Regions from separate parts of the Homo sapiens genome. Here region 1 is linked to region 2. Evidence: fine-mapped expression QTL. A gene starts in region 2. The other region holds a variant in brackets. All regions are shown on one strand. Distances are from middle to middle.

Region 1 (5,385 bases), 36 kb before region 2:
ACCAGGTCACGTGGCATATGTCCTGGCAGAGGCCAGCCCCTCTCACTACTTAGACCATGGCTGCTCTCTCTTATGTCTTTGGTAATTCTCTCCCTTCTGGACCTTTCCTATTGGTCTGTCAATGTGCTGTTAGATCCAGGTTTCCTTGGGTTTTTTAAGAGGGGGTGGGGAGTGAGGGTTGTGGTATTTTTTGTTGTTTTAGTTTTGTTTTGTTTTTAGAGACAGTGTCTCACTCTGTTGCCCAGGCTGGAGTACAGTGGTGTGATTGTAGCTCACTGCAGCCTTGACCTCCTGGGCTCCAGTGATCCTTCCACCTTAGCCTCCCGAGCGGTTGGGACTGCGGGTGCTCACCACCACATTCAGCTAATTTTTTTTTTTTTTTGAGACAGGGTCTTGCTCTGTTACCCAGGCTGACATGCAGTGGCATGATAATGGCTTATTGTAGCTTCAGCCTCCTAGGTAGGTTAAAGTTATCCTCCCACCTCAGCCTCCCAAGTAGTTGGAACTAGAGGCACTATAGGCCTCTATCATCATGCCTGGCTATTTTTTTTTGGTAGAGACAGGGTCTCACTGTGTTGTCCAGGCTGGTCTTGAACTCCTGACCTCAAACGATCCTCCTGCCTTAGTCGCCCGAAGTGCTAGGATTACAGGCATGAGCCACCGTGCCGGGCGCCCCCCCTTTTTTATGCTAGTCTTGATCTTCCTTCTTCATCCGTCTTTCTGTTTCCCACACCCATTTGTCTACTTATTACTTTTTCCTTTTATAACAACAATATTTGACGTATATATACTCAGTGTGTCTGGTTTTTCTCCTTCCATTCTCTCTGGTACCTACTCAAATCAGGCTTTCCCCTCAGCTGCTTGTGGTAAGATGGCCAGTAATCATCATATTGGAAAATCCTATTGTCAGTTATTTTCTTTGACTTAGCAGAATTTAACGCAGGTGATTCCCTCCTCCTGGGAATGCTTTGGTTTTTCCCTTGGCTTGTGGGACACTGCCTTCTCAGGGCTTTCTTCCAACTTTATTAGCCATTTCTCAGCCTCCTTTTCTGGCTTCTGTTCATTTTTTGGACCCGGAAACATTAGACTACCTCAGGACATAGTCTTTGGACATAGTCCTTGGACTTGGACTTCTTTTCTATTTAACCTCACCTTCTTGGTGATGTCTCTAATCTCATCAATTTAAATACCATCTAGAAACCAGTGACTCCAGATTTACATGTCTACCCCAGGCCTCTTTCCAGAACTCCAGACTCAATATTACATTGCCTCCTTGACACTACTTGACTAACAGGCATCTCAAGCTTCTGTTCAAAAGGACGCTTCCCATCACATCTGCCAGCTCTCTTCTCCCAGCTTTCTCCAGCACCATTGTTCTAGTGGCTCAGCCCAAAACCTTCATCCTTGACTGCTCGTTGTTAAAATTGACTTAGAATCTGGCTACTTTTCACACTCTGCCATTTATGGCGCCACCCTTGCCTGGATTACATCCCTGGCCTCCCAGATCGTCTCCTTGCTCTGCCCTAGCACACAGCAGCTGGAACAATCCTGTTAAATATAAGTCAGGTCCTGAAACTCCTTCACTCTAAACTTTCAAAGCCTCCCCATCTCACTCAGAGCAAAACCCAGAGTCCTCTAAGTGGTCTTAGATGTTCTGTACCAACTGGTCACATTACCTTCTGGCCTCACCTAGCACCCTCCCCAGCACCCACTCCATCCAGCCACTCTGCCCTTCCAGGCTCCTCAAATACACCAAGTGTGCTCCGGCCTTGTAGCTTTCTGCCTGCTGTTCCATCAGTCTAGAATGCTCTTCCCAAGATAGATAGGACTTGCTCCCTCACCTCCTTCAGGTCCTTTTTATTTATTTTATTTTTAATTTTAATTTTATTTTTTTAGAATCACAGTCTTGCTCTCTCACCCAGGCTCTCTCACCCAGGCTGGAGTGCAGTGGCACCATCATAACTCGTTGTCGCCTCAAACTCCTGGACTCAAGCCTCTCAAGTAGCTGGGACTATAGGCACATGCTCTGTGCCTGGCTAATTATTTAATTTTATTTTTAGAGGCACGGGGTTTTGCTATGTTGTCCAGGTTGATCCCAAACTCCTGGCCTCATGCAATCCTCTCGCCTCAGCCTCTCTAATCAGTGAGATTACAGGAATGAGCCACTACACCCAGCTCAGGTTCTTTTTAAAATGTTGCCTCCTCAGTGAGGATGTCCCTGATCACTCTATTTACGGTTGTGGCACACACACCTTCCTTCCAAATACAAATCCA[C/T]GCTTTTTCTCTTCCTTGGCTGCTTATTATCTCTTAAACATTTATCACCATATAACCATACCATATATTTTATTTGTTTATTTCATTTGTCTTCCTTCACTGGCATATAAAGGGAGGGATTTTTGTATTTATTTGTTCACCGTTATGTTTCCAGTACCTGCAGTATGGAAGGCTGTCAATAAATATATGTTTAAATTGATGAATGAATGACCGAACTCACAGGAAAATCAAGAAAGAATGTGGTGGCTCAGTAGAAGCTCAGCAGTCAGTGGTTCTGGAGAGAGTTCTTAATATACATGTTCTGCTAATCGGTTTGGTGGAACAAGTGTTCCAAAAAATCTAACGTAAAAATCTCATCTTGTAACTGGATGGATTATAGGATTAATCATCTTATTAAAGGATAAAAAGAATGTATCTAATTCATTTATTCATCCACTCAACAAATATTTAAGCACCTTCCAAGTGCCTGACGTTGTGCTACTATAATAGATGAATTCTAATGTGTACATGCATAGGCATTGTTGTTTTGACAGAGACACAAGGAGTAATCCACTTAAACCTAAAGTTAGCGTAGCCATAGACACCTCTCAAAATGTTTAAACAGCATTTCTGAAATTAAAGTGTAAAGCAAGTGGAAATTATTAGATCTGCAAATACATACGCTACAGTCATTTTAGCAATACATCTGTTCTGTAATGTCACTATCATATGATTAAACAGGGAGAATTCATTTCTCCCTTGCTGCATTCCTCCCTGCAGGCTAGCTTAGCTAGGGGCACTTCCCCTGCACTTAGCAGACCCCTGGGGAGGAGAGGCAAATGGTATGGCCAGGAGCCTGGCTTGGAGGTCATGGTGTTGTGTTCAGCCATGTCTTTCCCACCTTTATAGGAGTGTCCTCTGCCTTGCATCTTTTGGAGCACCAATAGCGGGTTCCCAGATTCTTCCTGGTGAAACTTCTTAAGGACTTAAAAATCCTTAAAACCAGTTCTCACCATAATTTCCTCTCTCCTGACACCCACTGATTCATTTCAGACTATTACTTTCAATGGGGTGGTTTTAGCCTGCTTATAGATACACATGATTTTCTTTCTGAGTTTCCAGATTTTCGTAGGTGCTTTTGTGTGGCAATTTGCAAATACATTTCTGTTTCTTGGTTATTTTGCTTTTAGTTGCATTTTTATTTTAACTGATCTTGTTGGAAATCACATCCTTCTGGTCATTCATTCCAGATTCCGTGCTTGTGGTGAAGGCGAGGCAGCCAAAGCCTTTCTTTGCTGCCGGAAATACATTTGAGATGACTTGCAAAGTATCTTCCAAGAATATTAAGTCGCCACGCTACTCTGTTCTCATCATGGCTGAGAAGCCTGTCGGCGACCTCTCCAGTCCCAATGAAACGAAGTACATCATCTCTCTGGACCAGGATTCTGTGGTGAAGCTGGAGAATTGGACAGATGCATCACGGGTGGATGGCGTTGTTTTAGAAAAAGTGCAGGAGGATGAGTTCCGCTATCGAATGTACCAGACTCAGGTCTCAGACGCAGGGCTGTACCGCTGCATGGTGACAGCCTGGTCTCCTGTCAGGGGCAGCCTTTGGCGAGAAGCAGCAACCAGTCTCTCCAATCCTATTGAGATAGACTTCCAAACCTCAGGTGAGCAGTGAGCCCTGTTGAATCATAGGTGGAGCTAGAAGAGACCCTAGGGTTTTGATCAGATGCCCTCATTTTTTAAAACAGCTTTGTTAAGATGCAATTCATATGCCATACAATGTACCTGTTTAAAGTGTGTAATTCAGTGGCTTTTCATATATTCACAAAGTTGTGTGATCATCACCACGACCAGTTTTAGAACATTTTCATGACCCCAAAAGAAACCTGGACCCCTTAGCCAATACCCTCCATTCACACTCCATTCCCCACCTCCCATTCTGCAGCAACCATGATCTACTTTCTGTCTCTATACATTTTGCCTATTATGGACATTTCACATAAATGGAATATAATATGTGGCCTTTCTATCTGGCTTCTTTTTTGGAGCAAAATGTTTTCAAGGGTCATCCATATTGTAGCATGTATCAGTGCTTTGTTCATTTTTATGACTGAATAAGATTCCATCGTATGGATATCCCACATTGTGTTTATCCATTCATCAGTTGATGGACATTTGGGTGTTTCCAGTTCTTGACTGTTACAAATAATGCTGCTGTGGACATTCATGTACAAATTTTTGATGAATGTATGTTTTCATTTCTGCTTTCATTTTAAGAAAATGAGCTGAAGCTCAGCTACTTCAAATACTTTAGGGAACATAGTGGAGTATAAAGAAAGAGAGGAGGGAATTGAGCCTCCCAAGGTGTTAAATGACTTGCCAAAGTGGAAGATCTTTAACATCCTCTGTCTGTGTATGTGTGTGTTTCAGTAGGAAGATGATTTAAAAGTATTTAAACCCCAATCTTATTTAGAATATGAATGCAAAGGATTATCATTTGTGAGTTTAATACTAAGTGTTTTCACTAACTCTGCCCTGGGTTCCTGGGTTTTAGTTAGAAATTTCTGAATGTATAAATTAATACTTATCTGTAAAAATTCAGGTGTCAATTGAATCATACAATGAATGCAAGATATTTGTTGAATTAAATGATTAGCATTTATATTAAAGGTAAGCTAGACTCTAATAAAGTTTTTCTATTAATATTATTTTCTATTATTATAGCCTTTTATGGTATATAATATATACCATAGTGAAATAATCTTCTAAGATCTCTTGACCTTTAAATTAAAGGGTAAATATTGATTTAAGCCCTTAGATTTGGAGAAAGCATAGGCCTCCTTTATTGTGTATCTGTTTGTTTTTAATAGCAGCTTTATTGAGATATAACTCACATACTATAAAATTTACTATATATAGAGTGTACAATTTAGTGGTTTCTAGTATATTCACAGAGTTGTGCAACTATCACTACTATCTAATTCCAGAACATTTTAATCACCTCAAGAAGAAACTCCACTCTCATTAGTAATCATTCCCATGCCCCCATGCCCTTGCCCCTGGCAACCACTAATTTACTTTCTGTCTCTATAGATTTGCCTCTTCTGGGTGTTTCATATGAATTGA
Region 2 (5,385 bases):
TGGGACTACAGGCGCCCACCACCACACCCAGCTATTTTTTTGTATTTTTAGTAGAGACGGGGCTTCACCATGTTAGCCAGGATGGTCTCGATCTCCTGACCTCGTGATCCGCCCGCTTCTGCCACCTAAAGTGCTGGGATTACAGGCATGAGCCACTGCGCCCGGCCTCTGTCTTTATTTTAAATGCCCTACTTCAGGCCCTTATTATTGCTCATAGAGACAACTACAAAAACCTTGTAACTGACCTTCTTGCTTCTAGCCTTGTCTCCCTTCTTCACCTTTCAACCTGTTAGCAATGCACACATACAGAATTCAACTTAAAAGGAAAAACGGAAAATCCAACCAGGCTATACTACCACTAAAAATCTTCATAGCTTCCCTCTTCTTTGAGGTATTAATAAAAGCCAAGCTCTTAGGCTTGGCACACGAAGCCCACTAAGATCTGCCCATCCTACCTGTATAGATCCTTCTTTCACAACAACCTCAAACTTCATTCCAACAAGATAGTACAGCCTGTGTGTTACTATTCATGCCACACGGTTTTTCCCCAACTGTACCTTGGCCCCCTGCCTCTCTAGATGACTCATTGACTCACCTGGCCCAGCCCAATCCATCTTGACCTTCCCTCCTGCCTACCAATTTTCCCCACCCCCTATAGGTGCCCCACTGATTGTTGACACATTGCATTGTGATTATCTGATTTAAGTGGAAGCTTCCTGAGAACTCTAGCACTAGCGTAGTATTAGTCTAGGTTCAGGGCCAACTGTTGCATTTAGATACTCCTCTGCCATCCTTGATACCTGGGTTCACATCGGTGTAACTGCCCATTAGCGTAACTGCCCAACAGGTTTCTCCTTGCCTGCTGCCCAGATAGAACAGACTTATCAAGACAGGAGAATTGCAATAGAGAAAGAGTTTAATTCACACAGAACCAGCTAAATGGGAAACCAGAGTTTTATTACTCAAATCAGTCTCCCCGGAAATTCAGAGACTGGAGTTAGTAAGGATAATTTGGCAGGCCAGGGAGTGGGGAGTGCTGATTGGTCAGGTAGGAGATGAAATCACAGGGGATCAAAGGGGGTTCTTGCAGTCTTCCGTTCCTAAGTGGGATCAAAGAACTGGTGGAACCAGATCACCAGCCTGGATGGTGTCAGCTGGTGCATCAGGATGCAGGGTCTGAAAAATACCTTGAGCACCAATTTAGGTTTTACAATAGTGATGTTATCCCTAGGAACAGTTGGGGAGGTTGGAATTGTGTGGCCTCTGGCTGCATGACTCCTAAACCATAATTTCTAATGTTGTGGCTAATTTGTTAGTCTTACTAGGGAAGTCTGCTCCCCAGGCAAGAAGGGGGTTTGTTTCCAGAAAGGGCTGTTATCCTCTTTGTTTCAAAATTAAACTAAGCTAAATTCCTCCCAAAGTTAGTTTGGCCTACAACCAGGAATTAACAAGGGCAGCTTGGAAGTTAGAAGCAAGATGGAGATGGTGAGGTCAGATCCCTTTCACTGTCATAACTTTCTCACTGTTACAATTTTTGCAAAGGCAGTTTCACAGGGCAGATGAAGATTTACTTAAATGTCTCATGATGGTGATGATGGTAGCTAATATTCATTGAGCAGTTACTATGTACCAGATATTGTTCTAAGTGCTTTAAATAAATTAGCTTGAAACTATCATTCTCAGCAAACTATCTCAAGAACAAAAAACCAAACACTGCATGTTCTCACTCATAGGTGGGAATTGAACAGTGAGAACACTTGGACACAGGAAGGGGAACATCACACACCGGGGCCTGTCATAGGGTCGGGGGAAGGGGGAGGGAAAGCATTAGGAGATATACCTAATGTAAATGACGAGTTAATGGGTGCAGCACACCAACATGGCACATGTATACATATGTAACAAATTTGCACGTTGTGCACATGTACCCTAGAACTTAAAGTATAATAATAATAAAAAAAAGTAAAATACAAAAAAAAAGAAATAAAAAAATAATTAAAAAATTAGCTCATTTGGCATTCACAGTAATCTTACAGGGTACCTACTATTAGTATCCTCATTTTAGCAATGAGGGTTAGGAAAAGTTAATTAAGTTTTCTAAGATTGCACAGTTACTAAAACTAGAATCTGCATGCAAACCCAGGCAGCCTGACTCTAGAGCCTGTAACCTTCAGCACCACCTCATGTCGCCCCAAGTTCATGTTTTTCAGGGGCCTTCTCCCATTTCTCAGTCATTTCCTCTCTCAAGAGAGGAGGAGAAGGAAGGGCCAAGAAGACAACATTGCTGGTGCCTTTTTTATTTATTCAGTTTACCTAAATTCTCTCATCATTACCAAATGACACATACTGTGAGCCAGGTTGAGACCCATCTTTTCTTAGTTTTATCGATATCTGTTTACTTAACCACAAAGATAACTTTTTTACTCCCAAATTTGAGTGATTAGTAAAGAGCTACATAATGTAACCAGTTTTGCTTTTCACAAGACATCTCTATTTCTCAGTGGGCTGAAAACCACACTTTTGCTTCCTCTTTACTTTGCAGTGAGAGCACAGCATTTGTCACTCAACCTCTGAATGTTAGTGACACTATTGGGACGAAAAAGGACTGTGCTGGCCCAAATGGCAGGCATCTCATATGTGGCATCTTTCTTTCTCCTTCTGAGTAAGTTTCATAATCCTTTATGTTTCTCTTGTCACAGGAGTTCATCAACTCAGGGTGCTGAGTGATGGAACAGGACAATTTGGTCTCTACAGGAACAACTATGCCATATATTTCTGATGTTAGCAATAATTTTTGACTTACTAATGACAGTTCTTGGCTTACCTAGACATCCTTGAGTTCCAGGGAGTCACAATGCTTGGTTGAGTCCCATGCACAAGATTCCATTGGTTTTAACATTTGTGTGTGTTGCCAGATCTGTCAGTTTTGCTTGGCCCTGGCTTTACTCATCTTCCTGGGCCGATCATCCCAAGAGACAGTAAAAAAGCTTTGTGTCCCAAACTGAGAGGAGACCTTAAGGTTTGCCTGATATTAAGGCTTGATGGGATAACTATGCCTTGCAGATATGACTGGATGGAAAGAAAGGTTATGAAAGTACTTAGTAGTTTTAGACTATGCTAAAAGAAGGTTCTAGATTTCACCTGCGAGTGGAAGTGGAAATTGACTACTGAGAGACTGAGAAATGAACAGGAAGATTCACTTGGCTCTACTGAGGGCCATGCAGAGGGGCTTGCCTGATCTAGGGGCATTTATCTATGTTTGAATAGGATGGAAGAAGAGAAAATTTGGAGGTAGAAGGGAGAGTCAGATGAGTTGAGCAGGTAATGGAATAGTTTCAAACCAGATAGCAGGTACTTTTTATGCTACAGTTTTCATTAACATCTGGTAAAGAGAATAGACTCCATCTCAGAATAATGTTTAAAATGCATAAAATAAAATGCATAGAATTACAGAGGAAATCAGTCACATTGAAATACAGGTATCAAAATATTTTAAATAAATTATAATGCAGTAATTTATTTGCTTCTTATTTATGCATTACATAACAAAATCTACAGGTAGGTCTTTTAACCACCAAACTTCAAAGTAATGATGAGTATAAATAACATTTCAATATATCTTAAGTAGTTGTAATGTGATATGAAGATATCTGTGGTTGTCTACATACATAACTGAAGAAAATACTAAATTTCCATTAGAGGCAAAAATGAAAATAAAGATGTAAGATTATTTTTCACCCTAGTTTATGGACCCTTTAATCCTACATGTGGACCCAGTTAAGAACTCTTGCTTTATAGCTGGGCATGGTGGCACATACCTGTGGCCCTAGCTACTTGGGAGGCTGAGGTGGGAGAATCGCTTGAACCTGGGAGGTGGAGGTTGCAGTGAGCCAAGATTGAGCCACTGCACTCCAGCCTGGGTGACAGAGTGAGATTCCATCTAAAAAAACAAACAAACAAACAAAACTCTTGCTTTAGAGAGACTGGATGGAGCCAGTGCAGGGACCCGAATGGCTGGGATGATTGGGGAACTAAACCAAGCTGCATTTGGTGTGACCAGGACTATGGCTGAAGAATTAAAAGAAAAGAATACAGCATTCAGCACAAAGAGGTTGCTTAATAAACATTGATTGAGTTGAATTGTGCTCATGTCTCTAGGTACATATGATAGTGTGAGGTTAAGAGTCAGACCTAGGGCCTGCAGGGGAAGTTACTGGGACCACTTGCTGGGTGACGGATGCCTGCCAGACTGGCTTGGCGGGTGTTGATGGATAGGTGCACTGGTGGGATCCTTTGGGGGCTGGTGTGTTTTTGTTGTTTGGTTAAGTTGTCTGAGTGTGATTCTCAAGTGTATGTGCTTTGTGTATTTGAATTCTATGTTTGCTATGTATATAGGAGGAAACTGGGTTTACATTGTGCAATAATTCATAGAATTGCAAATTCTGTCTCTTTTTTTGGTAAGCAGGCTAGAAGCCCTGGGGGAAGGAAAGTAGTAATCAAGGCTCAAAAAGGGGAAGCTGGAAGCTTTTCCTTAACCCATTTAAACAATTACCTAAACTGGGTTATACATTTACTTCTTCTAAATTCTGACTCATCTGAAGCACTAATTTTGTGTAGAAGCACAGTTTTTATGTGAAGAATACATAAATCAGGAAGTTACTGGAAAAAGCTTTAGAAGTCTGCTGTTTGTCCTTACAAATATAGAGGGGAATTGAAATAAATTATTTAAATAACGATCTATTGATCAATTACATTGGTTAGCAAATTTACACTTTGTCCCAATTTTTTTTTAGTAAATATAAGGACTGAACAATCCTGATAGAAAATGGTGCCATATGAGATTAATGTCATGGGTAAATGAGTTCTCGGATTTAGCAGTTAGCTTTGTCTGCTTGATCTATTTCCCCCACCCAAACTAGCTGCCCTACAAATAATGGCCATTAATATGGCAGGGTTTGGGGGAAGGGCTATTGTCTGTCTTACTGAGTTTGCATTCATGAAAAATAAAAAAGATTCCACTTAGTATGGATGGAAGCTATCTCAGCCTCCAAGCATATAGGGTTTTTGAATGTGAAAAGAGAAAGAAGCTGCTTGTTATGTTGGCTATTCCTGAGGTAGGTTTTGTATAAGGTAGCATTATTTGAAACTGCTGTTTTTTTGGTATAAAAAGTGCTCAAGTATGGACCATTTTATACAGTTCAACCTAATCGTTTTCATTCAAATAATACTGCAGTGGTAAATTTGACAATTCCAGTGATATTTTTAAAGAAAGTCAATACCATCGAGGAATTTTTGGTGTTTTGAAAGCATGATTCTAATGTTAGTATGTCAGTGCCAAGCTTTGTACTCATCAGCCAACAAGAATATGAGCTACTATTCAAAAGT

What was found.
Region 1: its variant is fine-mapped to the expression of CD101 in whole blood (INTERVAL, PIP 0.93).

Annotation. Positions count from the first base shown.
Region 1 is chr1:116,963,408-116,968,792 of GRCh38, forward strand. PTGFRN (prostaglandin F2 receptor inhibitor) reads left to right here. Exons shown (of 9, transcript NM_020440.4): 6 at 3,504-3,923. Among named protein-coding and RNA genes, the nearest start is that of CD101, 36 kb to the right of the region's middle. The variant C/T (reference allele first, on the strand shown) is at 2,275.
Region 2 is chr1:116,999,199-117,004,583 of GRCh38, forward strand. It overlaps CD101 (CD101 molecule), which reads left to right and starts at 2,562. Exons shown (of 10, transcript NM_001256106.3): 1 at 2,562-2,662. The coding sequence starts at 2,620.